Regions from separate parts of the Homo sapiens genome. Here regions 1, 3, 4 and 5 are each linked to region 2. The links come from fine-mapping of genetic effects on gene expression. Tissue or cell type: whole blood. Region 2 holds a variant in brackets; each other region holds the start of a gene. Each region is shown on its reference strand, or each on the opposite one.

What was found. PIP is the estimated chance that this variant, and not a neighbour inherited with it, causes the effect. A credible set is the group of variants that fine-mapping cannot tell apart.
Region 1: TNFSF13B starts here. The variant in region 2 is the best candidate, but not a certain one, in a credible set for the expression of TNFSF13B in whole blood (TOPMed, PIP 0.71).
Region 3: IFI30 starts here. The variant in region 2 is the best candidate, but not a certain one, in a credible set for the expression of IFI30 in whole blood (TOPMed, PIP 0.56).
Region 4: it holds the start of NFIL3, and the variant in region 2 is the best candidate, but not a certain one, in a credible set for the expression of NFIL3 in whole blood (TOPMed, PIP 0.80).
Region 5: it holds the start of ZBTB47, and the variant in region 2 is fine-mapped to the expression of ZBTB47 in whole blood (TOPMed, PIP 0.91).

The regions. Positions count from the first base shown.
Region 1 is chr13:108,266,257-108,272,235 of GRCh38, forward strand. It overlaps TNFSF13B (TNF superfamily member 13b), which reads left to right and starts at 3,462. Exons shown (of 6, transcript NM_006573.5): 1 at 3,462-3,978; 2 at 4,084-4,168. The coding sequence starts at 3,640. RefSeq lists enhancers at 3,498-3,927, 3,879-4,387 and a silencer at 4,288-4,367.
Region 2 is chr7:50,248,461-50,254,439 of GRCh38, forward strand. No RefSeq gene overlaps it. Among named protein-coding and RNA genes, the nearest start is that of IKZF1, 53 kb to the right of the region's middle. The variant C/A (reference allele first, on the strand shown) is at 3,241.
Region 3 is chr19:18,170,998-18,176,976 of GRCh38, forward strand. It overlaps IFI30 (IFI30 lysosomal thiol reductase), which reads left to right and starts at 2,816. Exons shown (of 7, transcript NM_006332.5): 1 at 2,816-2,976; 2 at 4,043-4,225; 3 at 4,314-4,388; 4 at 4,608-4,700. The coding sequence starts at 2,845. RefSeq lists enhancers at 1-133, 3,181-3,250, 3,378-4,043 and a silencer at 2,561-2,870.
Region 4 is chr9:91,420,673-91,426,651 of GRCh38, forward strand. NFIL3 (nuclear factor, interleukin 3 regulated) reads right to left here and starts at 3,160. Exons shown (of 2, transcript NM_005384.3): 1 at 2,968-3,160. LOC124902209 (a long non-coding RNA gene) reads left to right here and starts at 950. Exons shown (of 2, transcript XR_007061661.1): 1 at 950-1,032; 2 at 1,347-1,387. It overlaps LOC105376146 (synapsin-1), which reads left to right and starts at 3,361. Exons shown (of 2, transcript NR_188612.1): 1 at 3,361-5,724. RefSeq lists silencers at 3,098-3,497, 5,808-5,979.
Region 5 is chr3:42,651,479-42,657,457 of GRCh38, forward strand. It overlaps ZBTB47 (zinc finger and BTB domain containing 47), which reads left to right and starts at 2,219. Exons shown (of 6, transcript NM_145166.4): 1 at 2,219-2,405. ZBTB47-AS1 (ZBTB47 and NKTR antisense RNA 1) reads right to left here and starts at 2,910. Exons shown (of 3, transcript NR_125400.1): 1 at 2,516-2,910. RefSeq lists enhancers at 2,193-2,834, 4,899-5,193 and silencers at 2,840-3,199, 3,240-3,319.

The DNA of each region.
Region 1 (5,979 bases), not on the chromosome of region 2:
AGTCCTAGTATCTCAGTTTGTTTATTGAATGACAGAAGAATGCTTTACACTTACATTGAGAAAAAGATGTGTGTAAAAAGCAGCTAAATACTGTCAATAAACACTGAATGTATAATAAGATCGCTGCACAATCTGTGGCTCAGATACAGTGGCCTTTTGTCCCTGAATAAACTTGTGATGTGGTGTATTATTCAATGAACGTGAACATGCTTCTTGTTTAACAGAATTTCTGTTAAATTATTGCCAAACCATTTCCTCTTCCGGAAACAGATTCTTGATTTATGGAGTAATGACTTCCTTTTGTTCATCTAATAAGAGATTCAAGAGTCATGAATGTCACTTCGTTTTCTACCTGTCTTTAGAGAAAATGCAGCTGTCAGATCCCTGTGGAGGATGTGCACATTGCCATCCCTGCTTGCTGTCCCTCTAGCCAGAGGGACATGATGGCTGCCCTTTGTGGAAGAAGAACTTGCCCATTTTATGCATGGCACGGCTCACTGCCGCAACAAACATCGGCACTGGTTTAAAAATGGCTGCGTGCAGGCTGGCCAGTGACTCTCTTTTGAGATGTTCAGGCATGAAAGTCTCTGCCCAACACAGTGACGAAGGCAGAGGGAATTCCCTAAAGCAGTCAAATCATTCCCTGTCTTCAGAATTTTCTCTGAGGGATATAGAGGGGAACGACTCACCAGAAGAGGGAGAATGTCCATGGATGGAGAGAAGCAGTGGCTACAGGAAACCCTGAGTGAAACGCAGAGAGAAATTGCTTTCTAGCACTGCGTTGCATCCTTTCATTTCTGCATGTATTTAAATCATAAGAATACACAAACACATCATCTAAAGGATCTCAATGACTTTCAGTAAGAAGGCCTTCATACAATTCCCATACGAATTCCATTTTTTATGGCAAGGTTACTCCGTATGACTCACCCTAATTGTTCTGGAACAAGAACTGACAGAAAAGAATTGGACTGTCATTCCTGATGCAAAAGGGTTTACAAACATCCTTCTAAAAGAAGACTTCCACCTGAGAAGGTTGATGGAGGACCTCTTGTCTACGTACCTGTTAGACTGGGGCACGGTCACCTTATTGTGGGAGTTATAGGTAAGAAAAATTAGAGAGCAGCTTATTTTGGGGGCCAGGATAATAACAAGTTATTTTTAAAAGGTCTTGGAAACTTGCAGATGCAAAGGGAAAAAAACAAAAAACAAAAAACAATCCTAATGGTAAAAACAAGTAAGTCTGACTGCGTCATTTTGTAGTAAGACAATGAGGAAATGGGAACTCGTCAGAGGGTAACTGGGTGGTGCCTGTAAAAGTGAAGATGTGCTTCTCCCTCAGCAGGCATTTGCTGGGAAACCCTTGCAGACGTTACAAGCACAGTTGTAGAAAATATCTATTAGAGCACTGTTTGTAACTGAAAAATGTTTCATTCATACTTTGAATGTAAAGAATAAAAGTGAATGAAAAAATGGAAGCATTGCACCGTGCTTTTGATTTACATTTCCCTGATCATTTAGTACAACCACCATGGAAAACAGTGTGGAGATTCCTTAAAGAACTAAAAGTAGAACTACCATTTGATCCAGCAATCCCACTACTGGGTATCTACCCAGAGGAAAAGAAGTTGTTATACGAAAAACATACTTGCACACACATGTTTATGGCAGCACAATTCACAACTGCAAAAATATAGAACCAGCCCAAATGCCCGTCAATCAATGAGTGGATAAAGAAACTATGATACATATATATGATGGAATACTACTCACCCATAAAAAGGAATGAATTAATGATGTTCGCATCAGCCTGGATGGGATTGGAGACAATTATTCTAAGTGAAGTAACTCAGGAATGGAAAACCAAACATTGTATGTTCTAACTCACAGTGGGAGCTAAATTACAAAGATGCAAAGACATAGGAATGATCTAATGGACTTTAGGGACTCAGGGGAAAGGGTGGGAGGGGGGTGAGGAATAAAAGACTAAAAAATGGGTTCAATGTGTACACTGCTCGGGTGATGGGTGCACCAAAATCTCACAAATCACCACTAAATAACTTAACCATGTAATCAAATACCACCTATTCCCCAAAAACCTGTGGAAATAATTTTTTTTTAAATGGAAGCATCCAAAATGTAATTTGTTTCCACATTCTTGTAAGCCTCATTATGTATCCCAGGGACAGTTAATATCGTCATACGAATTCACAGGTGAGGAAATGGAATCACAGAGAGATTATGTACTTTGCATAAGGAGAGCGAGGGTGAGGCAGGATTTGCAGTCTAGAAGCCTGGGTCTGGAGTTCTCCACTTTGCACTATATCATTTCTGTAAACTTCTTACTTAAGACTGTGTGGAAATGTAGAGTGAGACAGAACTAAAGCTCACTATTCTTAGTCCACAGGGGAGTAGTGACTACCCAGGGCTTGGTAAGTGCTCAGTAACGTTTGTTGAAAGATGAATCAATATTTCAATGCTGGGGCAAAGCAGTGAAAAACTGGGGAATGTCCAGGAACCAGCCATCAGGATAAGGCAGGACTAGAATGAATGCAACAGTCCTCACAGGTCCACCAAGTCAACAACAGAAAAATCCAAAGCTAAGGTGGCTCTTGTGTGATCAAGGACCTCTTGTACACCGACCTGTTAGGCTGTGGCACAGTCAACATGGGAGTTGTAGACAAGCTACTTGAGAGTGGTTAATGGTAGCAGTCAGGCATTTGGAGCTGGAGGCAAGGCTGATTCTCCTCAACTAGTATCATATTGAGCGGGGACTTAAAGCCTCAGAAGTCTGAGCAGAAAAGCTGAGACCAGGCTCCTTGGGACAGGCTGTTCATATGCATGATTGAGTTTCAGTGATGAGTCCCAGAAGGAAAAAGTTTATGCATGTTTTCCTTAAAAATATATTCACTTATATTTAGAGAATCCTTCAGATATCTAACCTAAATACGTCTGTAACATTTACTCTCATTCTTTTTATGACATTATTAGTATAATAATATGAATAATTCCCAGTGGACTTACTTCCACACTTCCTTCAAGGATTCTCCATTTTATTTCATAATTGAAGACTGTTAATAAATCACTCTCTAGCTAAGAACAATTCAATGCTAAAACACTTAGCTTATCTGACCTTCACATTAATTATTTTTATGACAGCAGCAGGAACTTTCAGCTGCTTTTCCCCCTTCCTTATGAAGCCATGTGGTCCCAAGCAGACAGAGTTCCCTTGCTACACTTAAGGGTGGGCTTCTCAGACCTGAGCATATCTTAAAAGCTTTCCCTTGACTGTGCCAATCCAAACTCCAAGTTTCCTCAGCAGATTTAAGGGGTTTTAAATCTACTTGAGCATGAGTGTTATGAGAAGACTTTGAAATTCTTACAAAAACTGAAAGTGAAATGAGGAAGACAGATTGAGCAATCCAATCGGAGGGTAAATGCCAGCAAACCTACTGTACAGTAGGGGTAGAGATGCAGAAAGGCAGAAAGGAGAAAATTCAGGATAACTCTCCTGAGGGGTGAGCCAAGCCCTGCCATGTAGTGCACGCAGGACATCAACAAACACAGATAACAGGAAATGATCCATTCCCTGTGGTCACTTATTCTAAAGGCCCCAACCTTCAAAGTTCAAGTAGTGATATGGATGACTCCACAGAAAGGGAGCAGTCACGCCTTACTTCTTGCCTTAAGAAAAGAGAAGAAATGAAACTGAAGGAGTGTGTTTCCATCCTCCCACGGAAGGAAAGCCCCTCTGTCCGATCCTCCAAAGACGGAAAGCTGCTGGCTGCAACCTTGCTGCTGGCACTGCTGTCTTGCTGCCTCACGGTGGTGTCTTTCTACCAGGTGGCCGCCCTGCAAGGGGACCTGGCCAGCCTCCGGGCAGAGCTGCAGGGCCACCACGCGGAGAAGCTGCCAGCAGGAGCAGGAGCCCCCAAGGCCGGCCTGGAGGAAGCTCCAGCTGTCACCGCGGGACTGAAAGTGAGTTTGCAGCAGCTGCAAGACGCAGGCAAGATCCTGCCTACACTGCTGCCTCTCCCTCGCCTCAGCTGTCTTTCTAATAACTTGAAGTTTTTCTGTTCATAGATCTTTGAACCACCAGCTCCAGGAGAAGGCAACTCCAGTCAGAACAGCAGAAATAAGCGTGCCGTTCAGGGTCCAGAAGAAACAGGTATGTTTTGGGCACAGACACTTTTAGGAGTCAGGGATTAGAGAATAACATCCAGTCTGGGGGAGCTGGAGGTGAGTATCCCCTCTATGAACCTATTAAATAGAGACTATGAAATTTGCCATCCAAAGCAGACATTGCTTTAGAGCAAAGCCCCAGCGCTGGCAAATGTAACAGGCTGCATGGGTGTGCTTTTTCCTCCAATGAGCAGATCGTGTGACTGGAAGCATTTCTCTGTGCGTGTGTAAGTATTTATCTGTGCATTAAGCATAGAGGAGATAAAAGGGCCATATGTGTTTCCTCAGGTAGATAATGCCCTCCCATGTGAGAAGCATTATTCATCACTCCAGAAAAATAAAAAAAAGCATTACATGTTAGAATTAGACTTTGCTTACTACCTGGGTCATAGAAAGTTAAAGACATCTGTTTTCTGAATGTACATTACATGTTGTGAAACCAGGTGAAGGTTGTAATGAAAGGCCCTGTATGTTGTACTTTAATTTTGTTTATTTGTTAAAAAGGTTATTTTACACACACACACACACACACGCACAGACACACACACAGATTTTAAAGCTTCTCTTTAAGGTACGCTTTTCCAGGGGATCCATGCATTTATCGTCTTCTTATAATCGTCCTTTACTGATTTCTGACTTTCTTCATGTTCTGCTCATTCCACGGAACTTTACAGAGTTGGTGGGGCCTACCAAAATGATCGATTCTAGTTCTTTCATTTGAAGGTGAAAAAAAGAATCTTTGTATACATTTATTAAAGTTATAATATAACAAATTCTTAATATTATTGTCCTTTTATTAAATATATTGAAAGAATATTTTTTGAGCACCTGGAACGTATCGTACAGCTATAGACCAGAATAGGCATTTTCAAACATACTATTTCGTTTAACCTTCACAGTGACGCTATGAAGTCCACAGAATACATGCAATAATTTATGTATATTTTCACTTCTGAAGAGAATTGCATAAGAAATGTAGTGAGAGATAGACCAGGGACCCTTCTATCACACACACACACACACACACACACACACACACACACACACACACGCATGAGGTACCCTGACTATAAACTTATTTTTTGACTATATGCTTTATTCATAAAAAATTGTTTCTTATTTTATAAAACCATAATTTTTGGTATCTGGTTATTGTATCTTTATACTAGTTATCAGGAATAACTGGGCTTAAACATTTTTAAATTAGGAAACATGCACATTTTTATTATTTTAACACATCAATTATTTTTATCGTCTGCATTTTATAGTCTATATTTCCTACATAATTGAAAATAATACGGAATATATACTATAATATTTTTTGTTTTGACTTATACAATAAGGATTTTTCCTATTTCTAAGTATTTTTCATATATCTGTATTAATTTATCTAACAATTGTTTTAAATGGTTATTTCCATTCTCTTTGCTATAATACAACATGCAAAAGTTTTGCACAGAACTCTTTTATTTCTGTGAAATTATATATTCAATATAAAATTCATATAGTGGAATATCTGAGCTAGGGAGAAGAAACATCTTCATCACCCTTGCTTCCGACTGCCATATTGTTTTCAAAATGAGTTATACATGCAATCAAAAATGTGGTGTACCGGTTCTCCACATTCTTGCTTGCATGTTATTTTTAAAGTGTATTTTGACTAGTTTAGTAGTTGTAAAACAATATCTCACATTTATTTTGATGTGTTGCTTGTTTACTAATATGAATAAACTTTCTGCATATTTTGATTATTTATAATTTTATCTTTTGCTAATTTTTATTTATAACTGTCTCCAC
Region 2 (5,979 bases):
TTTAATTGCAGAGAATAAACCCAAAGACAGTACACAGGGCAAAATGGTAAAGATAAAAACAGAAGTTAATAAAATACAGAACTAAAATATGACAGATTAGAAAAACAAAACAACAGGTTTATTTTAAATCTCATGAAATTAAGAAATCTCTAATGAAAATTTTCACGTTATGAAGAGAATGCACAGAAGCAACTTCTGAAAAGGAAAATAAATTCAAACTATAGATGCTTCAAGAAATAAAAAGATGAGTATACTGAGTACAACCTGATGGCAATTTAATATGTAAACCAAACTAGAATTAACAAATTTCTAGAAAAAAAATAACTTAACGAATAACTCAAGGAGAGTTAAAAAAAAATCAAACAGTCCAACATCCCTTAAATCTGTTGAATCAGTAGCATAAAATCTTTTGAGAAAAGAAAATATCATGCCTGATAATTGTACAAGTAAATTCCTGCACAATTTATTCAAAAAATTCTAACCTTATACAAACTTTTTTAGAGTACAGAGGAAAAGAATACTATTTAGTTGAGTTTATGAAGTTAATTTGCTCCAAATACTAAAACCAGATAAGAATAAACAGGTGAAAAAAAAAAAAGCATAGGCCAATCTCATTCATCTGCAAAGAACAAGAGAAAGAACATCAGCATGAAATCTAACATGTATAGAATGTTATGGCTATGTAGGGTTTCATCTTATAACTACATGGTTTAGCATCAGAAAACTCATTGATAGATAAAAATATTTATACATAAATGGGGAAAATGAGAAAAAGCGACTTAATAGCATTCATTATTCATGAAAGTATTGCTCAGAATAGTAGGAAATTAAGAAAACTTACTTAAACTGATAGAAGGAGGCTACTAAAATCCTAGGAAAAACATCGTATAAAATCCTAGGAAAAACATCGTATTTAATGGTGGGCTGTTAAAAGCCTCCCGTTTAAAATGAGTTGCATGATGACGATTCCTAATATCACACTTTCCTTCAACATTATATCTGAGACTGTAGCCAGTAATCAAATACAAGAAGAGGATACAAAATAAGAGAATGGCTCGTAAATGACTAGAACATCTAAATGACATGTAAGATGTCAAAATAAGAGAATGACATCTTAAATGAATAGAACAAAGCCATAATTATTTGCAGATAATATGATGTTCTGTAGAAAATCCAAATGAATCTGCTGATGAATTATTAGAATTAAATAATGGAATTTTAAAAGAATGTGTGATACAAAATAAATAGAGAAAAGTTAATTGCATTTGTATACCTCAGCCAAAAGTATTTACAGTGTGGAAATTTAATATTAAGTAATATGAAATTTACAATAGAAACCAAAATTGTAATTACCTAGGAATAAACATAATATTAATAGATGTACAAATTTAGAAGACCTAAACAAAAAAATTAGATATCTGTATAGGAAGACTTAATATATTAAGATGTTAATTATCTTCAAATTCATCCTTCTATTCAAGAAAAATCCAAATTTCCAGCAGGTAATTGGTTACATCAAGCTAGCTCTAAAATTTATATGTAAGAGCCAACAGTCAAAAATGAGCATTGCTGAAGGGAAGAATACATTGGAAGGATGGACATTATCACATATCAAGACATACTATAAAAATATGATCATTGAGATATGTTTTATTTGTATAGAGATAAACAAATATACTTACAGAATAGAGTACCCAGAAACAGACTTAACAAAAAAATAGAAACCCAGTTATGACAGCTAGCATTGAAGAACATGGGAAAATGGACAGCAACAATTACTTTTACATAGGGAAGAAAATGAACTAGGATTCCTATCTCACATAATACACTAAAATCGTTTCAAGGTAAATTTATGACATAAATGTTAAAAGCAAAACTATAAAAGTTTTGAAAGGCAATGTAGTAGACTATTACCATGTATAGGGAAAACTTTCTTAAAGAGTCGAAAAACACATTCGCAGAAATGATTAACCAATTGGTCTGAAAATTGAGGTACAATGAAGACGTGAAAAGATGATACACATCGGAATAAAATATTTACAACACAGATCACTGAGCAAGTATTTTTTAAAACATATAAAAGAGTCCCAATATATAGATACAAAAAAGACAATTCGATGGAGAAGTGAACAAATTACTTCAATGGGTACTTCATGCAAGAGAAAAATAAAATATGAAAAAGATGCTCAATCTCATTAGTAAGCAGGGGAATTCCAATCAAAGCCACAATTATATTACAGTGGCAAGAAGCTTAAAGATTGACAATATCAAGTGCCTAGGACATTGTGGGACAGAGGAGTAGTGAGTACTTTCTGTGCCTAACACACAGGAGGGCGGTTGTGTAACCAGTGTTACAAAGGGTGTTCCTTGACCATGAAAAGCAAGTCCAACAAAAGAGTGAAGAAGCCAAGTGGTTTTAAGTGCAAATCAAAGTCCCTCAAGTTAAAGCAAAACCAGTCACACTGACTATATTTTCAATGTATTCATTTAGTGCACCTAAAATCCATTCAGTGTCCAAAACTCTGATGATCAAATTAATTCAAATAACAATATCACAAAATCATAGTAATGTGCAAACCAGCTGCCATCTATTTTTGTAGCCATAGTGAGAGATTATATTTTAGATGATGATAAAATAGTCACTAAAATGATTTTTAAATTGTTAAACTATTACAAGCATAGTCAGTACTTATTATGCTTTATTATGATCTGAAAGTCACACAAGTTTGTAAACTATCATTATTATAAGAACTGTTTTAAAACAGATGACAGGGGTTGTGTTTTTTCGTTATTGTTGTTTTGTTTTCTGTCTTTTAAGACATTTTCTGTGAAGCAATAGATTCATGAAGGAGAGAGAACAGCATTGATAGGAAGTAACTAAAACTTCATTTCATTCAGCTTGTGCACATGTACCCTAAAACTTAAAGTATAATAAAAAAAAGTTAATAGATCCTCCATGAGCTTTAATATCCAATGTCCTCATTGTGAAGTTGCCTCAATTACGTGTGCTACAATTTGCAAACCAGTTAAAAATAAAAATGATAAATTGGCAACTAAGTTCAGCCAGTCCTGGAATTCTAAAATTCTAGGATACACCATTGATTACTGGTAAAAATACGAAGATTCTCCATCATCTTGAATTTTATAATTCTGACAGCTTTATGGAAGGAACATATTCTGCCATTGTCCTGGGCATCACTCTACAAGCTTTCTTGCTTGTAAGTAGATCTGAGCCAAGTG[C/A]CAGGGCTGCAGAAGCAAGTTCTAGGGCTTTGGAGTCAGACAGCATTGGATTCCCACTGAATTAAGTACTGTGCTTCTGCGCCTAGCCTCAGGTTTACTATGTATAAATGAAGTCTAAATAACCACCTGGTGGGCTAGTGCAAGTATTAAGCACAATAATGCCTCTGAAAGGCCCAGGACATTCTTGGAACAGAGAAGCTCTGTTTCTGCTCAGCCTGTCTCCATTCCTGCCTGATTAGCTCAGGACGCCACAGAGAGCAGGAGGGGCAGCCACATAACAGGTTGGGGGGTGTGTCCATTGGACCAGCTTGCATATCATCTCACCTCTGACTGCACTGTCACTGGCCCTCATGTGCTCTCCCTTCTTTGTCTGCTAAGACCCTCCCAATGGTTTGCTGTTGACATCCAACCTCAGCTCTGTTCCCTAGACTCCGATGCACATCTCTCCTCTCCAGAACCTGCCTCTATGGAGTGGCATTAAACATCTGCCATCCTGAGCCCTCGCTGGTATGGTCCCAAGACCTCCCACAAATGTCACAAGTACCACCAGATACCTGAAACATTCTTTCCCCAACTCTTGTCAGAATGTCCCAACCATAGGCTCTCAGCTTCAGTTCTGCCTGCCTGGTGACATGCCGGCCTGAGGCAGTAGGACAGCCTTGCATGTTTGGCAATAGAGCTGTGCTTCTCTGAATGATTTAGGAATGATCTGGGTATATTAAAAAACTAAAAATCCAAGGTGTCTATTATGATACATGATTGCCAAATCTGCCACTCTTTATCTCCCAGTTGTTCCTTGTCCCATTACAATTTGGTTTAGAATTAACCCATTCCCTCCAACCGTTCTTGCTGGCTTGTAATTGTAATATGTATGCAATGGACACAAAATCTGAAGCATCTCTTCCTGAGTCCCGGTCTGCCTCTAACTTGCTTTGTAAATAGTCACTCTGTCTGTTTAAAGTGTCTCCACCCTCTTCCTTCTATCTTCTGTTAAGCTACAGGAATGCTGTTTTCTAAAATGCCATCCTTTATGGAAAGATCATGACATTCCTTTCCATAAAATCCTAAAATGTCAAACATAAGAATCATTTGGTTCTTTGTAATACAGCTCTAGCTTTACCTCCCACTATTTTTTCAAAACCTAATATGTACCTTATATTTATTTCTTCATGTATCTTACATTACAAACATATAGACCCATGTGCACTTTTCCAAATTGATCATATTCTTTCTTTTTACAGTAATGTTTTCTGGAAACAATCTCAAATTTAGAGATAAGTTTCAAGAACACTACTAAAAAGTTTGTACCTTCAAATCATTGATGGCAGGTTGTGGACATAATGCTCAATCTATCCCAAACTAGAGTACATTTTCTAAAAACAAATAAATTACCCAAAAACATATTCCATAAGTCTATCAAAATACAAAACTAAAATTGTTATATGACTGCCATTCAATCCACAAACCCAATTCAAGTATCGTCATTTGGTCCAAAATATCCTTTATAGCAAAGGGATCAAGTTTAGAAACATGCATTGCTTTTAGTTATAATTTCTCTTTAGTCTTCTTCAACCTGAAAAAGTTACTCAGTATCTCCTTGACTTTCATGTTCTTGACAGGTTTGAAGAATACAGGCCAGGTGTTTTAGGAATTTCTCCCAATTTGGATTTGCCTGGTGTCTCCTCATGATTTGCTGTGCTGTGATTTGTCTTGCTGTGTCCTATCAAGTGAAACACAGTTTCGATTTGTTTCATTACTAGTGATGTTGACTTTGATTGCTTAAAGTGGTAAGTGTCATGTTTCTTCACTGTAAAATTGTTTTTTTCCTTTTTAATTGAGGGTTTTATGGGTAGCTGCTTTGAGAGACTATGCAAATATCCCATGCCTCATTAAAGTTATAATTTGTTCACTTATTTATTGTCTATATCACTATGAACTATTGGTTCCCTATTAAATTCAGTGGATTACAATCCATTACTATACTGATGTATTTTAATGTTTAAATTCTTCTAGATTTGAACAGTGGGACCCTCTTCAAGTTTTCTTCTGTGTCCTTTTAATGTGTTCCTTTTCAAACCTTAACAACTTTCTTACTTTATCACAGCAAACTATTCCAAGCTCATGTCATATTTTCTCTGTTCTAGCTTTGAAATCAACCATTATTCCAAAGATCCATGGTTCCCATTTGGTGGAAATGGTATTGCAAAACCAAGAGCTGGATCTAGGTGTACTCATTGCTATTGAATGTTGCTGTTTCTACTATTTCTTGGAGACAGAGCTAGGGCATATCATTGTATAAATACCTACACATAGGTGATAATATGGACAAATCTACAGATAGCTTCGATTTCAATTCAGAACCATAGTTTTAGTTTGGTTCCTTTATATTTCTAACATCCTTCTCCAACAATAAGAAACTAGCTCTCATTATTCTTAATATTTATTTGATTAATCTCCTTGGCCATAACCAATCTCCCTCTCCTGCACTGATGCCTCTTTAATCCCAGTTGGCCCAGACACCTCACATCAGGCTGCATGGCACACATCCAGGTCTTGTTGCAAGCTAAAAGCCTACCAAGAAAAAGGACAACACTTACCCTATATTGTGTCTTCTTCCGAGTATCAACTCCACTGTGGCATCTGCCTATGTTCATTCACCCCGGTGCCTTCAGGTTATATTTTTGTGTTTTGTCCAGGGTTTTTAGCTGGTCTCTGGGAGGTTTGGTCCAGCAGGAGCTA
Region 3 (5,979 bases), not on the chromosome of region 2:
CCAGCATTGGAGGCTCTTCTCTGACCTCTCCTCACCCACTCCCATGCACAGCCCGCCGGGTCCCAGGAGACGCTGAGCAAAAGCCCTGTGGGGTTTTTTGTGTTTCTTTTTAAAGAGTCAAGGTCTCTCACTCTGTCACCCAGGCTGGAGTGCAGTTGTGCGAACACAGCTCGCGGCTCACAGCCTCAAGCTCCTGGTTCCCAGCCTCAAGCAGTCCTCTCATCTCAGCCTTTAGAGTCACTGGATTACGGGTGTGTGTCACCATGTCCAGCTAATTATTTTTAAATTTTTTTAGAAACAAGATCTTGCCGAGTGCAGTGGCTCACACCTGTAATTCCAGCACTTGGGGAAGCCAAGGCAGGCAGATCACTTGAGGTCAGGAGTTTGAGACCAGCCTGGCCAACATGGTAAAACCTGGTCTCCACTAAAAATACAAAAAAAAATTAGCCAGACATGGTGGCGCATGCCTGTAATCCCAGCTACTTGGGAGGCTGAGATAGGAAGATCAGATGAACCTGGGAGGTCAACGCTGCACCAAGCCAAGATCGTGCCACTGTTCTCCAGCCTGGGTGACAGAGTGAGACTCTGTCTCAAGAAAAAAAAAAAAAAAAAGGGTCTTGCCCTTTTCCAGGTGGGTCTCAAACTCCTGGCCTCTAGTGATCCTCCCACCTCAGCCTCCCTGAGTCGCGTAAGCCACCACGCGTGGCCTCATGGCGTCTTTGACTTGGACTCCTGTTTACCACCCTCCCCATCACACCCAGAATCCACACCCCCACTGCGACGTCATTGTCCCTTCAGCCCTCCCCAACCCTGGGGCCTCACTGTCCTTGTCTGTTTTGTACAGCCACCTCTCAAGGCCCAACAAGGCTGAACCTGGGGCAAGTGCAGAAAGAAACCTCCACTCTGACCCAGTCTACTGCTGGGACCTTGGGACAGGACCTGCCTCCCTTAGCCTCAGAGCCCCCTAGCCTTGCCAGGCACTGTCCCTGCCATGTGTCCTGTCTGGAGATAACCCATAAATAACTCCAGCCCAGATTGTGCCTCTCACTGCATAGGTGCTCACAGGAGAAAGGTTGCCATCTTTATGATCCCAGCTATGCTGAGCTGGGGGTGGAAGAGAATATCCCGTGTGGTCTCTAAAAACACTCAACCACTGGCTGTGTGTCCTTGGCAAAATAGCCTTCCCTCTCTGATCAGCCATTTATTTGTTACCAGCTGGAGTCAGTAGCACCTACCCCCAGCCCCAACTGGATGCTTCTGAGGGTTCAATGATAAAATGGGTTGTAGGCCCACTCTATGCCTGGCACCAAGCCAGAGAGCAATACATTGTAGGGTTACATTTATGATTTCTTCCAATAGGGCTGGTGCCTGGTAACTACTGGAAAAATTGTAGCAATTATATTTATGGTTATTTCTTCAATCCCACCCGGCATAGGGTAAGCACCAAAGTTGGGGTGGTGAGTCTTGGGGAGCCTTTGCCAACGGTTTGGTCGTCTGAGGGATGGGCTCGGGGACCATCCAGCCACTGGGACTTCAGAGAAGCTCCGGCTCCCAAACCAGCTACTGTGTGTGTGGCCAGGGTCTTCCCCACAACTAGAGGGGGGCACAGCTGGGGACTCAGGTATATCTTCCAGCTGGGTGTGGGACATTTTCTTCCCTAGGATCCGATGTGTCTTGCCCTGAATGTAAGGCCTGGCAGGGTTGGAATGTCTCAGTTATTCCCCCAACACTCCAGCCTCCATCTGGGCCTTTTTTCCAGGCTATTCTCTCTGCCTTCACTGTTGGGGCCACTGTCCTGTGTAGGCACCAAGGCCTGACCATGCCATCCAGAAGCCCCAGCCTGGGACAACTCTCCCCCACCTGCCTCTGAGCCCTCCATGGTGACTCTTGTTCCCCAAACCTTATCCTTCTCCCCATTACACAGAAGGGAAAGCTGAGGCTCTGTCACTCAAATCCAAAGCCAGGTGGACTCCAAGCCACCCCACCCCTATCCCAGACAGCACAGGCTGCCTCTCTCCCCCATGGGCGTCCCTTGAAGGCCAGGTTGCCCCCCACCCCCCACAAGCCTTGAACGATGAAAAGAAGGAAGGCCAGTTCTCTTCACCCCAAGCCAGAAGTGGGGCTGGGTGGGTACCCTAGAGAAATGACACGCCACTCCCTGCGCCAGCTTCTGCTTTCCGGCGTGGCTGTGGTCAAGCCTGAGTCAGTCCCACGGGACCACGGTGAGGGGTCTGGAGCGTCGGGGTCAGGAGTTTGAGGGGGGAAGGGTTGAGGGGCAGGATGTGGGGGTTGGGTGTGAGGGAGGTCACGGGCGAGACTGGAGGGAGGAGACCTGGCCACACAGGCCTTGCCCACTCTCGGGGGCCTGAATATTTCAGTTACTCCCCCAAAACCCCGGCCTCCATCCCATCCCCAGCCTCCATCCGACGTCACCCCTGTTAGGTCACAGGCCCACTCTGAGAGTGGGTCTCGGGCCTCAAGTCCCCTAGCCGCCCCTAGAAGGTCTAGGGGTGCGTGGAGACACCACCATTCCTCTCAGCCTGTGTCTGTCTCAAAGGCCCCACCTCACCTCCCCTAAAGGTAGTCTTGCGCCAGGGCTCACGTGCCTGGGCAGGGCTGATTGCCAAGGGGCCCAATGGCCTCGTGACTGGGGACCCAGCACCTGGCAGGGGTGGGGGTGGGACACTCAGAGGAAGGAGTGGAGGAGGGAGAGACGCTGGCCCGGGACCCGAGGGGCGTGGGCATCGGGAGGCGGGCCCGGGTTAGGGGCGGGACCGCCGCCTGGTTAAAGGCGCTTATTTCCCAGGCAGCCGCTGCAGTCGCCACACCTTTGCCCCTGCTGCGATGACCCTGTCGCCACTTCTGCTGTTCCTGCCACCGCTGCTGCTGCTGCTGGACGTCCCCACGGCGGCGGTGCAGGCGTCCCCTCTGCAAGCGTTAGACTTCTTTGGGAATGGGCCACCAGTTAACTACAAGGTAGGGACGGCGACAGGGCGGGCAGGCTGGAGGGAACAGGCGCCCTGTCGGGGCACGCGGCTCCTTCTTTCTCCCCAGACTTCACAGGGGAAGACCAGGGCCCCGAGGGGACGCTGTCCCTGCCGGGTTCCTGGAAAAACCCTGTTCAGTTCCCGGCGCTGCGGCCACACTCCCTCCGTGCCGTTTCGCTTTCGCATCCCGCATCTGAGAGGCGCAGCTGCCTCCACCCGCCTAGTCCCGCCCAAGGGTTCAATGAGCGCCTACTGTGTACTTTTGGGGCAGGAGCTGGGGTCTCCTTTTGTGGCCCAGGGCACAAGTTCAGCAGCTGGCCAAGGGCCGCCGGCATGCATTCTTGCTGCTACCCTTGATGCATTCATTCCAGCCAGGGCAGGGCTCGCGTGTCTTTGGGACCTATTAGGCAGATGCCCTAGAGGCTGAGCGACTTGCTCACCGCTCCAGCGACATGGGCCACCCGCCACCCCTCAGCTGAAGCCGGAAGTCAGCACCTATTAGGTGCCGCCTCTATTCAGTCGGACTTGGAAAGGGTTCACGTGGATCCCTTGCTCAGCTCAGAGGCAAGGTCTCCAGGTGAAGTGACAAGAAATGAGCATGGGCCAAGGCCGGAGGCGGTGGCTCATGCCTGTAATCCCAACACTTTGGAAGTCTGAGGCAGGCAGATCACGAGGTCAGGAGTTCGAGACCATTCTGGCCTACATGGAGAAACCCTGTCTCTACTAAAAATACAAAAATTAGCTGGGTGTGGTGGCATGTGCCTATAATCCCAGCTACTCAGGAGGCTGAGGCAGGACAATTGCTTGAACCAGGGAGTCGGGTGTTGCAGTGAGCCGAGATCGTGCCGCAGCACACCAGCCTAGCGACAGTGAGACTCCATCTCAAAAAAAAAAAAAAAAGTCTCAAAGTCAAGATTCCACCTGGCAAGTTCTGGAAGGCGTGCAAGATGAATTGCGTATCACAGCCCCCTTTCTACAAGACTACCAAGTGGGGTTGAGAGAAGTGGGGAACTGCCCAGGGCTACACCTGCCTCCCACGCCTTCCTAATCCACAGACAGGCAATCTATACCTGCGGGGGCCCCTGAAGAAGTCCAATGCACCGCTTGTCAATGTGACCCTCTACTATGAAGCACTGTGCGGTGGCTGCCGAGCCTTCCTGATCCGGGAGCTCTTCCCAACATGGCTGTTGGTCATGGAGATCCTCAATGTCACGCTGGTGCCCTACGGAAACGCACAGGTGTGTGGGCGCTGGGGAAACTGAGGCACGTGGGCAGGGGAGCAGGGGACCCAGCCTACCAGCAGGCTCTCACCCTGCTGCCTTGCAGGAACAAAATGTCAGTGGCAGGTGGGAGTTCAAGTGCCAGCATGGAGAAGAGGAGTGCAAATTCAACAAGGTGGAGGTGAGCGGCCCCAGGGCCCCACACTGGGGTGGGGGAAAACTGTCCCACGTACAGGAGGCAAATACGAGGATGCCAGCTCTGTCTTCTGCCTCGTGTGCTCCCATTTAATCACATCTTTATTCCCTATCTCCTGGGTGGGTACTGGTGATTATTACGAGAGGGTGTCAGGGTACCCTAGGCCCTCTTCATGCCCTCTCCTGCCCCCTCTCCAAACCCCAGGCCTGCGTGTTGGATGAACTTGACATGGAGCTAGCCTTCCTGACCATTGTCTGCATGGAAGAGTTTGAGGACATGGAGAGAAGTCTGCCACTAGTGAGTGACGCCCCTCACTCCACCCAAGGAGGGGGACATGGGTGGTAACCTTCCCTGCATCCAGGCAGACCCAAATTCAAGTCCTAGCCCTGACCACTGCTGTCTGTGCAGCCCAGGAAAACAACTACCCTTCTTTATTTTATTTATTTTTTTATTTTTTCTTGAGACAGAGTCTCGCTCTGTCGCCCAGGCTGGAATGCAGTGGCGCAATCCCAGCTCACTGCAACCTCCACCTCCAGGGTTCAAGTGATTCTCCAGCCTCAGCCTCCTGAGTAGCTGGGATTACAGTTGTGTGCCACCATGCCCAGCTAATTTTTGTGTTTTTAGTAGAGACAGGGTTTCACCATGTTGGTCAGGCTTGTCTTGAACTCCTGACCTTGTGATCCGCCTGCCTTGGCCTCCCAAAGTGCTGGGATTACAGGCGTGAGCCACCGCACCCAGCCCTTTTTTTTTTTTTTTTTTTTTTTTTTTTTTTGAGACAGGGTTTTGCTCTGTCGCCCAGGCTGGAGTGCAGTGGTGCAATCTTGGCTGACTGCAACCACTGTCTCCTCAGTTTAAGTGATCCTCCTGCCTCAGCTTCCCCAGTAGCTGGGACTACAGGTGTGCACCACCATGCCCGGCTAATTTTTGTATTTTTAGTAGAGACAGTGTTCACCATGTTGGCCAGGCTGGTCTCAAACTCCTGACCTCAAGTTATCCGCCTGTCCCAGCCTCCCAAAGGATTACAGGTGTAAGCCACCACGCCCGGCCCCAGCCTCCCCTCTTGAAGCCTCCATCTCTGAATCAGGGGAATGAATGCAGGTCTCTTAGGAGCATGAGTGATCACAGAGGACTTACTGGAGGAGGCATTTCTGAGCTGGGCATGGAAGGATGAGCAGGAATGTGCAGAGACACAGATGATGGGATGTGGAGATGATAGGACAGACCCCACCTACTTCCCCGGGGGATTGTGAAGAATGACTCCCAGAGAAGTGACTCATTGGCTCCAATCATTTATTCATTCATCAAACATCCGGGTCACCCAAGAGGCCTCACCTAGTGACACCCTAGTCCTGCAGGGTTAGATCAGGGCTGAGAGAGTGGCAAGGAGAGGGCACTGAGGAGACACTGTGGAAGGAGGATGAAGGGTGTTCCTGGCAGAGGGATCAGCCTGTGTGGAGGTCCTGAGTAAAGTGAGATACTATGGGGGTCAGAGGCAGTGGGTCTGGTCTTAGGGATGAAACCAAGGGAGCTAGGAGGCAGGAGCAGCCCAAGCCCTGCCTTAGGGGCCTCCACTCAA
Region 4 (5,979 bases), not on the chromosome of region 2:
GTTTTCGGTCAGTTTTCAACAAAGAGCAGATTGCGTTGATATGCTTCAGGAGAACATCTGTGATGTCTCCATGAATTACTGCATGGGTACAATCTTGGAAGTCTTTATGCGAGGATGAAAGTACTGTAGTTTTACAGTAGGACAGCAGCGTCTATGTGGGCGTTTAGATTTTATTTTGAACTCTGGAGATCAGTGTTCTCTCTCCTCTAGCCTTTGACCACATAAATTAAAGGTTAAAAAAAATCGGCTCAACTCAACTGGCCAAAGTCAAGCTGAGGCCTTCCTTTTAATCACTATCAATACTGGAGCGCCTCCACCCCCAATTTCTGTGGCCGGTGGACGTTTGGAGGTTTTTCTTAAGGTCTTTTTCACTTCAAGAATGGAGACGCGCTTGGTTCCGAAATACAATGAAGACTCTTGGAACAAAGGTGTCTGCAGGTTTCTGAACCTCACCGCAGAACAGGCGCGGAGTCAGGCCCCTGGATTTGCCCTGTTGGAAGGAGGGCCGCGGAGACGCAGGCGCTCCGGGTCGCCCGCGCTGCCCCTGTCTGCCCCGTGCGGGAGCCGGGGTCCCTGGCTCCCTGGCTCCCTGGCTCCCGCGGCCCGGGCGAACCCAGAGCGCACCCGTACGCCGGCCCCGGCCGGTCCCTAGCGCCCGGGCTCCACGGGCCGCGCCCCCACGCGGCGCCTCCCAGAGACCCTCCTCCCTCCGGGTGGGCGGCGCAGCGGGGCCTCGGCGCCGCGAGGACCCCCCGCGCCAGAACAAAGGAATGTGGGGAGGGGGCAGGGAGGAGCTCAGGCCACTGAGCAGCCCCAGTATAACTGCCGTTCGGAGGCGCTTCTCGGTCCCGACCCGAGGTCCCCGCCCGCCACTACCAGACCCGCCCCCAGCCCCGGATTCTCGCAGACCCCACCGGCCCGCAGGAGGGAGCGGCGCACTGGGGGCCGCACGGACTCGCCATTGGAGATCGCGATCGGAAGGTGGCGCCACGCGGCCCCTACAGGCCTGGGACTCCCACCCGAGCTCGCAAAGTAGGTCGGGGTCTGAAGCTGGGGGCCTAGAGCAACTAGCTTCTTGGAAAGCGACTGCAATTATTTGGGGTAATATACTCTGTTCCAGAGACGTCCACCCCCCACCTCCCACAAAAAAAAACCCTGCACTTAATTTAAATGTTACGTTATATATACATCCCATCATATACATATATTCACACATAATCACTATGTAACAGTCCAGGAAGAAATTTAATATTTGGGTAAATTACATATTCACACATCTTCACATAAGTAAAACCAGGGTATCCAGACAAAAAAACAATCTACTAACCTATATCTGTTTCCCATAGGTCATATCTGGTCTGGGGGTAAATAAATACTTCTGACCTCACTTACTGTTGTTATTTACAAAAGCCAAGAACAGAAGATGACACTTGGCCATTCCCTGCTGTTCTCAGAGAACAGCAGTTTCCTAAAGTGTCCTTTAAAAACATAAATGGGAGCCAGCATCCAGCAAATCACCGGGCGCTGCGAAATGCCTTCCTAAAAATACAATCTTATCAAAGGTCTCCGAAGGCGTGGAGTTAAAACTACAGCAAATGGCCTTGAACTTGTATTTGCACACAGCCCTGGAGAAAACACCAGAAATAGCACTGCGAGGCCACAATTGTTAAAATGTGATAGGGCTAAATTTAGAAGAACGTGCGTTTCATTTAGGGCAAAAGACACACATTCGGCAGCATGAGCAAACTCCATGCTTACCCGGTTGTCTACTTTCCTGTTTAAAATATCCTTAAGGAAAAAAAAAAAACTGTTATAGTGACATTCTTAAAGGCTGAGACTGTCCTACTTTCTTTGTAGCAAGATTATAAAATCACGTAATTAGCTCCCTCTCTCTATGCTCACTGCCAGCAAATTCGGCAGTTACATAATGCAACATTTCCAGGAAACTATTATGTGATTTGTCTTGTCGTGTCTGAAAAAGCAATGACAATAAGGTGAGAAAAAGGGCTGATCGAATGGAATGCATTAAAATTAGGAAGGTGGGGAGGTAAACGTCACAATGGTTCGTCCCAGATTTAAAAATAACAGCTGAGAACATTGAAAGGGCGAACCCCAGTAGTACCCAAGATCAGAATTCAATGCGAGCAATTCTTGCTTTTAGGTTTTGTAGTATCGTTTTAAAACCTGTTTATTTGGGACGTAATATAGACGTAAATAACGATCTAATATCCAACGCTGCGCCTCAATTACCAAATCATTGCACACATACGCGCATATTCCCACATCAGCCCGCAATTCTTGCCAACATTTCACCGTGGGCAGATTATGCAATGTATGAAAGGACAAATCCCACAACCTTCCCGAGGGCTTGTAAAACACGCTGACGACAAACAGGGTGGAAAACGTCTGTGCAGACACAGCCCCTGACACAAACAAACGCCGCGCAGGCATTCTCCGAATGCCGTCACCGTTCACGCTACCAACCCTTTTTCTCACCAAGCAAATTAAGACTATTCCCCATTCCTCAACCCCCCATTCCTCTCCCCCCTACGCCGCCAGCCCCAGAGAAGGAACGAGAAAGAAAGACACTAGAGAGGAAAGAGCATCTTCCCGCTCGGAGAGGGCTCAGCCTGCCTGGCGCTCTTCTTTACCAAAACATCAATTTTCCTGAAATCAGGAGACATTATGCAACAGCAGCGGGGGGAGAGCGCAAACCAGCCAGGACTACGTGCCGGCGCGAAGGCGCTGCAATCAAAGCAGCCACCTTAAGGTGGCGAGTCCCATCCTGACAAGGCAGCAAAAGTTTATGTAATGAATGCCCCGCGCGCACTCGCCGCCGCTGGCGAGCCCAGCTTACAGCCCGACCCCGCACACAGCGCGGCCCGCACCCCGCGCCCGCCCGCCCGCCCGCAGCGCGCCCTGGGAGCGGTCGCCGGGCCCCCGGCCGGCGGTGGGCGGAGCGCTTACCGTGTTCCTGCTCTCGGGCCGGCGAGGAGAAAGAAAGGGGCGGCCGGGAGTCGGGCCGCCGGCGCTCGGGGCTCGGGCCGGGCCGGGCCTCCGGGGCCGCGGCGGGAGGCGGGCGGCGGCGAGGGCGCGGCGCGGGAGGCGGGCGGGCGCGCCGGGTCCGCGGGCGCCGTGGCCGCGCGGAGAGATGTGTGTTAGTAGGTCAGTTCCGAGCGCCGCGCTACGTCGCCGCCCGCCAGCCCCGCGTGACTGGCGGCCGCGGCCCCAATCGCCGCGCCCGCACCCGCCCCCGGCCCGCCGCCAATGGCCGCGGCCGGCAGGGGCGGGCCGGGGCGGGCACTCCGCGGCCCCGCCCCGCCTCCCCGCCCTCAGCTCCCCCTCCGCGGCGGCGCCACTACCAGCTCGCGTCCCTCCCCGGCCAGGGCCACCGCCGTCCGAGCGCCCGCGAGGGCTGGCGCCCCATTCCCGGCGCAACGAGTGTTGCGCAACGGCCCACGCGGCCGACACGACCGGAGCGAGCCTGCGGAGGAGCCCGGGAGCCCCCCGTCCCACCGCCCCGTCCGCTCTTGGCTCCCTTCACCCTCCCGGTCGCCGCGGTGGCTCTGCGCTCCCCGCGACCCTCACTTGCTCGCAGAGGCGCTTTTTGTCTTCCTGAGAGCCGCAGCCTGCTGGGCTACCTGTTGCCGACTGAGCACTGCGGGTTGCGGCTACCCGGGCGTGGCCCGGACCTCGGCCTCCCCTTCCCCGCACACTCCCGAGAGGAGCCCTCTACCTTGGGGTGGGCAGGAGGGAAGGCGGGGGGTGGCGGCTGGCAAGCTGCCAACACTCGGGGCGCGCTGCGGCGGGGAAGGGGTTGGCGCGGCCGGGCAGCTGCGCAGGGCTGCGCGGCGGAGGCAGCGATTAAAATGTCCCGGCGCCTCTCCCGAGAGCCGCGACGGCCCGGAGCCGGGAGGGAAAGCTCCACGCACAAACACCGCCCCCTGCACAATTAGGGCGAAGATGACGGCTGCAAAGTTGTTGCGTAACACGACTGGGAAACGAGGCTCGCTGAGGTCCATCTACCCACCCCCGCCACGCGGGTGCGGCGTTCCTCGGAGGATGTGAAGGTCCGCGCTCGGGTGCCCCCGCTGGGACGCCCACTGTCGTTTGGTGCTGGGGCTTGAGACGACCGCGCGGGATCTCTTCCTGTGATTTTGAGCTGATAGCTGCTTAGTGTTATTTCTGCGTCTAACTGGATACGGTAGTCTTCTCTCCCAAATTCCCGGGCTACGGAAGAGACGTAAAAAAATGGAAAAAAGAGCACCTAGCCGCGACTTCTTAAGTCGTCGCGCTAGACTGTCAAGGCACGTGGCACACTCCCTGCGTTTACCGATACACGGATAGTGGTCAGTGCTGGCCTTGGCGAAGGGAGCCATGTTCCCGACAGTGACTCACAGGCTTGCCCAAATACGGAGTGTGGCAGGTGGGCAGGACCTCCACCAGCCAGCTCCCTCCTGGTCTCCTTGAACTACGTGGGGGCTGGGCCGAGTGCCTCCACGACTTTCCACTTCTTTTTGCTCCTTTCGTTTTTAAAAAGCAAAAACCAAAGTAAAGAGAAGAGCAGAGTGAACACCCAGGTACCATCCCTAGTGTCTGCCATGAGCAGCAGATCTATCTACTCGCCAAGATTGTCTTTTCTACCTTTCCCCTTCTTGCACAGTTAATATCATAATAACGCAAGTCATATTTAAAAAATTTTTATCACCTATCAGTTGAGTTTTTGGAAAGCCTTCCAGGGCAGCGTTGTGGTTTTGAACGCACTCTTGTTCGTGATTTATCTGGTAGTACAGCTCTGCTGACAAGGCTCTGAAAACTCAGACGTACAATATGGGCTTAGCGTGTTCCCCGACACCATCTTCCCGGTGCTGACTAATGCAAGAACCACATCCCCTCCACTACACATTTTCCAAACTTGACTACCTTCATGAGAACAAATCCTGATTTTAGTTTATAATTTCCACTTTTCTCATACATATATAATAATTCAAGATGTGGTCTTACTATGTTGTCCAGGTTGGCCTGGAACTCCTGGGCTCAAAGGATCCTCCGGCCACAGCCTCCCTGGTAGTGGAATTACAGGCGCATGCCACTGTGCCTGGCCACTTTTCTCAAATTTACTGATAGTTTCCTTTTTGCCCAAACCTTACAATGCTTATTTGTAGCTTTGAGAACCTCTCTTAGATGAAATCAAAATCATATCCATATTAGTTGCCTTTTTGGGGTCAGAAATGCAGCTATTGTCTAGAAATCCAGGGCTGTCCTGCATAATCTACCCTCCCCTTCACGTGTTCTGACCTTGTTCTGCATTTTGAATAATTTCATGGAATTTCAAAGCCGTTGTAGTAAATGTCTTTCTTTAAAGACAACTCGACCTTCAAGACAGGTAAAGAACGTGCCTGGAGCCACCCCAGGCAGTGATGCTGGAGGAGTTCTCTCAACCTGGAAACTTATTCTTTATGCTGAATTTTGAAATCGAATGCTCCTATATTTACTTGGAGTATTTTAGATTGTGTATGTATTATATCTGTGCATCATTCATTGTTACCATCTAACTTGGAAATCAGAGGAAGTGTGAAAGGTATCTGAGATACCAGCTTAGAAAACAACTCTTTAGCTCCTCCTGGTGATTAGGACACCACTAAACAACAGGATGAAGGATCTGTCCCCAGGGCCGAAGTGATGATGTATCTAATATTATATCCTAGAACATTCACAGAGTAGGTAAGTATTTGCAGATTAACTCGAGTAAATGGAGCATAAAAACCTAAGATATTTGAAACAAATTAACCAGGGTGGGGAGGCTTCTAGGAAGACATCAGCATGTGCCTGATGGTGGAGCTGGGCTGTAAGGTTCTCAGGAGGAGGAGGAAGGGGTTCTTGCTCTCAGCAACCTCTCAGTGCTAGGGGTGGATTGAGGGCAGGGGCAAGGGAGGAGGTGCCTGGACAGGGATGAGAACTACCAGCAGAAGACAATCA
Region 5 (5,979 bases), not on the chromosome of region 2:
AGTGCTGGGTTCAGTGGAGGCAGAATTCAGGTGTAAACTCCACCCTTAACCCACCCCACACCCTGGGGATTCATGTTTTCCCGCCCTACTAGAACTTTGGGCTTCGGATCAGCGCCTAGTGGGTAGCTTTGAACTTCCCTGCCAGCCCACTGGCCACATGCTGTGCGAGTTGAGTTGCATTGCCTGTATTTTTCTGGCATTGCCCACTCTGCTCTCCCTCTTCCCCAGGCTCAGCTACACACAGCTCCATGCCCTCCGGGCTGACTCAGTCCTGCATTGTTCCCACACACATACGCATACCCACAACCTGGGCTGTTCTTTCTAACTTCAGTGGGGTTGAATCTGGTTTCCCCAACTAAGCCTGGGGACACTCCAGCACTGAGGGTAGATACTTAGGGAAATTGAGAGAAAACCCATGAGCTGTCTTCTAGAGGCAGGGGCATAGCTTTGCTGACCTTGTCAGGACCCAATCCCAAATATGTGAAGGATCACTAAGCTCTGCCCTTGCTGGGTGAGCGTCTCCAGACTCCTGACTCACCCCTGGGGCATGCATTTCTGGCCCAGGAGTCAACTCCCCAATAACTCAGTCCCTCCCTCCAGAAAGCCTGCCTTGACCTCCCTGAAGTGAAGCTCCTACTGCATGCCCCTCATCAGGACCAAGAGAGAAATTCTGCCTCTGCCTAGCTCCACCTGTTCACTCCCACCAACCAGACAACTCCTGATCGATAGGAATCTTGACTCCACTACACCAAATCCCCTCTAGTTCCCTGCAGATGCTAAATTGTCTCCACCTCCTGGCCTTTGCAGGCTTTCTGTCTGGAAAGCCCTTTCACTCCCTCATTGCTCTAGTTAATGTTCAAGTTCAAGCCTCAGCTCTGAGCAGCCCTGTGGGCCCACCAGACAGCTCTTCAAACCACTCCTTCCTGCCAGGTCCAGTGTTGCCAGGTGCCCACAGCTGCTCACAGAGCTCAGGCTCTGCCCTGGGACTCCCCAGCTGATGAGCTGCAGGCCAGAGAAGCAAGAGGGGAACAGCCGAGGCCTTCAGGGAGACTGAGTGCCTCCCCACCACCTGTCCCCTCCCTTCTCACCCAACCTCCAGCCCTTTCTGCAGCTTGACTGCTGGAGCTAAGGCCCCAGCAAGGCCCCATAGGGCCAGCATCACTACCTCAGTCACGCTGGCCACACCCTCTGTCAAGCTTTGGCTTGGCAGTGGGCCTAGCAATGTCCCATGCAGCTCTCTCTGCCAGGCTTCTTCCAGCCCGTGGAGGGGTCCCTTCTCCCCACCTCCCCTTCCCCTGGCTCCTGATGCTGATGCCTAAGTGATTTGTCCCGCTCTGAGCCTCAGAGTCCTTATCCAACCAATGGGCACACAGCCCCTCCCTAACTAACTCCTGGGCCGGTGCTAGGATCCACTGTGAGTCAGATGAGGAAGTGGGCTGGGGAGGAAGAGGCAGAAGGCAGCCCTCAGCGGGCTAGCTGGTCAGAAGCATGTAAGCTGCTCTGGCCTGGCCTTAACCTGGGGCCTCTGGGAGCTGGGCCAGCTGTCTGTGCACCCATGCAGGTACAGGATGTCTGCAGCAGCTGCCAGGGGCTTCCAGATGCCCCAGGTTTGGCCCCTGAGACATTTTCTCCCTAGCTCTGGGATAGCCTTATCCTGAGGCCCTACGTATTCTGGCAGAGAGTGGGGGTGGGGGAGGAGGCCCTTGCAATCTTACAGGACAGACCATCAGGCTGTTTCACAGCACCTGCCTAATACCCTGGTCTCTCCTCCATTTCTCCTCTGGCACCTAGAACCAAGTCACCCTGAGCCAGCGCCAGAGTTCCTGCCCACTCGTGAGTAGGACAACATACCCAGGAGATACTGCTGCAGCTGGACATGGACTTGTATGTAAACACAAGCGCACATATGTGGGGAGGGGTGTGGAATATCAGGATGGGGGCAACATGAGAGTGACCCAGGATGGGCAGTAGTGAGCTTGGGGTAGGAGGAGGGGATGTCCACAGAGGCCTCTCCTCTACAATGGTGGCCCAGTCACCATCCAGACCTTGCCAGGTCTAGTGCCCCGTGGTCCCCACCCTGCTGCCTGCTCAGCCTGGCAGCCTTCCTTTACAGCCTCCTGCCAACAGAGCCAGCCCCCTGCCCCCACGGGTGTCCATGCCAGAGCAGCATTCCGCAAGCCTGGCTGCATCTCCCCAGCAGAGGCTGAGCAAGGGGGCCACTCAGCAGTGGTCAGGTCACACGGCTAGAGGGGCACAGTGGGGCCTGGGCCTCTGGTCCCTACTCCTCTGGTCCCTCTGTCTCCTGGCCCTGGGCCAGTCACCTTAGATGATTTGATCGCTGCGGTTGTAGTCCTGGGATTTAAATCTCCTGCCCTGGGTGGCCCTATGCAGCATGAGGCCGCCAGGTAGGTATGGGTCCACTGGAGCCAAGTCCTGGAGGCACAGAGCAAAATGAGCCCTGCGCCGCCCTGGGATAGGGATGGGGGACTGGACCAGTTGGGGACCCCAGACTCACCCCCAGGTCAGAGCAGCCCAGGCGAGAGGGTGGGGGTGGTGAGCGCGGCTGGGGTGCGGGGTTCAGTCCCTCAGCGTGGGATCCCTCAGGGGAGCGGGTGGAAGCCTTTTCTGTTCGGATCCGGGGCCCGGCGCGCTCAGCTTCCTGATTTCACGGCAGCTTCCTATCCTGGCTCCCCCTCCGTGGCGCAACCGGAGGGCAGCGATGTTTGACTCCCGGACGAACTTCCCGGCAGAAAGGAGGCTCAGCACGGGAGGGTGGGGCCGGGGTCTATCTGCTCGGATATGAGCAGTGGGGACGGGCTGGGGGCTGGAGCTGGGGCTGGGGGTGGAGGGCAGCCTGCGGCAGGGCGGGCTGCACGGGGACCGCGCACACCACGCGTGTCCGCGCCCCCCGCCGGCACGCAGGCGGCCTGGCCCTTTAAGCGTCCAGACGGCGGCCCCAGCTGACGCGCGGGCTCCAATCGGCGCCCCGCGCCCCCCGCCCGCCGCGCCCGAGGCTCTGGGGCCGCAGCTGCTTGGCGCTGGACTCGCCGCGGCCCTGCGCCTCCGCCTGCCTGGCCGCGCCCCCGGGGGCCATGGTCGCGGGGCCCTGCGCGGGGGCGGCCCCCAGCGCGGCGCTTCATGGAGCGGCCCTGGCCTGGCCGCCGGGGGCAGCGCGATCCCGCGGGGCCCTGTGAGCCCCCAGCGCCACGGCACCATGGTACGCAGGGCCCTGCCTGTCCCCCCGCTTATCCGCCCACCTGCCAGCTCTGACCTCCCAGGCACACGGCCCGCGGGCCCGGGTGGAGGGGCTGGAGGGATCTTCCCCCCTCCCCCGGTCTCCCGGCTCCATCTGCTGGGTCCCGCGGGCCGGGAATGCGGCGCTGTGGCGCTGCTCTCGGTGGGGAGGGGGTTAAATTCCTGTGGTGGGGGCGCCGGCGCGCGAGGCTGAGGTCTTGCTAGGCACCGGCGAAGGGGGGCGCTCCCCTGCGCCCGGACGGCGCCGCCCTCGGGCTGGGTAATGGGGGGAAGAGGGAGTCGGATTCCCGCCTGGGCCTTGGGCCACGTGGGCGCTGGAGCCGCCCTGCCTGGGGATTCGGGATGACCCGGGCCAAGGGGGTGTGGGAGGACACCCAGAGCTCCCGTACCAACTCCTGTGTGACCTTGGGCAGATCCCCCGCCCTCTCTGGGTCTATTTCCAAGGGAAAGAGGGGAGGTAAGTGCACAGAGGAGGCTGGCATGGACACTCCCTCACCAAAAGGAGGAGCCTAGAGGTCATGAGCCTGTGCCCCCTTGCTCAGTCTGGGCCCCCCCACTGCTGCCCAGCATAGAAAGAATTGACATGGGAGGGGGGCGCAGATGGACTCCCCAGGTTTCATCATGGGGCCTTCCAGGGAGGCTCTGAGGCAGGGTAGAGAGATGAGGCTTCTCATCAGTGAGGCAAGGTACCCCTCAGGTGTAGAAGGCTCTGACTTGGGTGAGCAGCCTGGAGAGATGTCTGGCACCTGGCCAATCCCCAGCCTGACTTGGGGCAAGGGTTTGAGGGCATGAAACCCCCTGGCAACCAGAGTGCCTGACCACCTCCCTGGTCCTGCATCTTAGCTAGGCTGGAGTGACCTGGACTGCAGCTGGCACAGCCGGATGGGGAGGGGCACGCATTGCTTCCGGGAACCAGCACATCTGGCTGTGGAGGCCAGCACAGCTGGTGGGCATTGTGTGGGAGGGGCCAGACATGGGGGTGGCTGAACCCTGCTGAGGGGCTGCCAATTGTGGACTCGGGCAGCATCTCTGTGCCCAGTCAAGAGAGTCCAATCAGGTCATGAGGTTTAGGGCCCCCCAAGGGCCAAGGATGGTGCTGCCTTGGCTGAGAGTACTACCTTAGCAATGGAGTGTTTGAGAAAGCACTCCCCTCCTTTCCTGCTGAGAGGCCAGAGGGCCAAAGTCAGGCCTCATTTGGCCTAGAGGCCAAAGTGCACATGGGAAGGTTGCCCTTTCCCTGTGGCAGGTGGGCACAGGTGGGCAGTGGAGGGCATTCCATAAAGGGAGAGCAGAGAGATCTGGGGCTCTGTTGCCTGGGGTGGACTTCCCCCAACAGGCCTGGCTTCAGCAAACCCTTATCCAAGCCACTTCTCCTGCCAGTCTTTGGCCCCTGGAGGCCCTAAGGAGCCCCTGTTGCAACCCAAGTTGTACCCTGATCCTTCACTGACCTGCAGGTGCAGTGGCTCTAGGGAGGAGGGAGCAGGTAGAGGGGATAGTGGTGAGTGTGGGGAAGCACGGCTGGTCTCCAGGTGGCGGGATGTTCTCGCTTTTTAAGTCATTAAAGGCTCAGAAATCCAGCCATGTGGGGTCTAGCAAGGAAGGGGTGGTCTTAGCGGAGCTGGGAGTCCAGGGGCTCTGGACTGTGGAACCCTCTCATTCTGAGCCTCGGTTTCTCCATCTGTGTAGTAGGGGTTGGTCCCAGAAGATGAATCAGAATGAGTCAGAGGAGGGAGATGGGAGGGGCTTGGTGCCACGTCCCAGTTAGATTGGCCAGGCCTGGACAGCCTGGGACAGAGGGAGATGGATGGCTTCTTGGCTGGGGTAAGGGGTGTAGTGGAGAACTCAAGGAAGATGGTAGCCTTGGCCAGGGGCCTGGCCAGACTGGGATGTGAGGGAACACAGGATGGCTGCTGCCCTGGCTGCTGGGTGTAGGGGGCAGGGTCCAGGGCAGGCCTGGAGACAGGTGGCCCCTGGTGGCTCAGGGAGGCTCCTGCTGAGGCCCACGGTAGGTTTCTCATTCAGGTGACTGAGAAGTGGAGCTCAACCACCACCACCCCTGCCCAATCCCAGCCTACCCACTGCTCTCCTGGCGATGGAAGGCCTGGCATGGGGAAGGGGGGCGGTAGGCTGTGGATGGATGGGGCCAGGATTCATCCCAGGGTCCCCAGGGAGGCACTGACAGCTATGGAGCTGATGGTTTTGTGGCCATCAAAATATTGTGGCAAGGTACCTCCCGAATGCAGGAGGCTCAGACCTGGTTGGGCAGGCCCTGAGGAGAGCCAGAACTTGGAACCAGTGGTGCTGGTCCAGCTGGGCTGGTGGTTGGTGGATATTAACAACATCTGCACATCACTGTGTGATGGTTCTCGTGCAGGGACTGGGCAGGCTGCCTGTCTGTGCTGCCCACCTTTTGGGGAGGCTGCTGTGGTAGAGCCGGGGTGACTGAGTTGGCTTCTATTCCAGGCAATTCACAGGTGCTGGATGTGGCCCACAGGCCTGATAGTCTGACCCATCAGACATTGAGGGCCTCCGCTAGGGCTCTGGAAGCCCCAGATGGTGTGGCCTCTAAGGCAGGGCTTTCCCAGAGCCTGTGGACATGGACCGTACCTGACCTGGGGTCTGGGGGTCTACCGGGAAAAGGATCTGGGGCAGGCCTTGGGGGCCTCCTGCCTGCAAGCATGGTAGGCAGGTTCCACAGCTGTGTCCTTCCACCCCTGCAGAGCC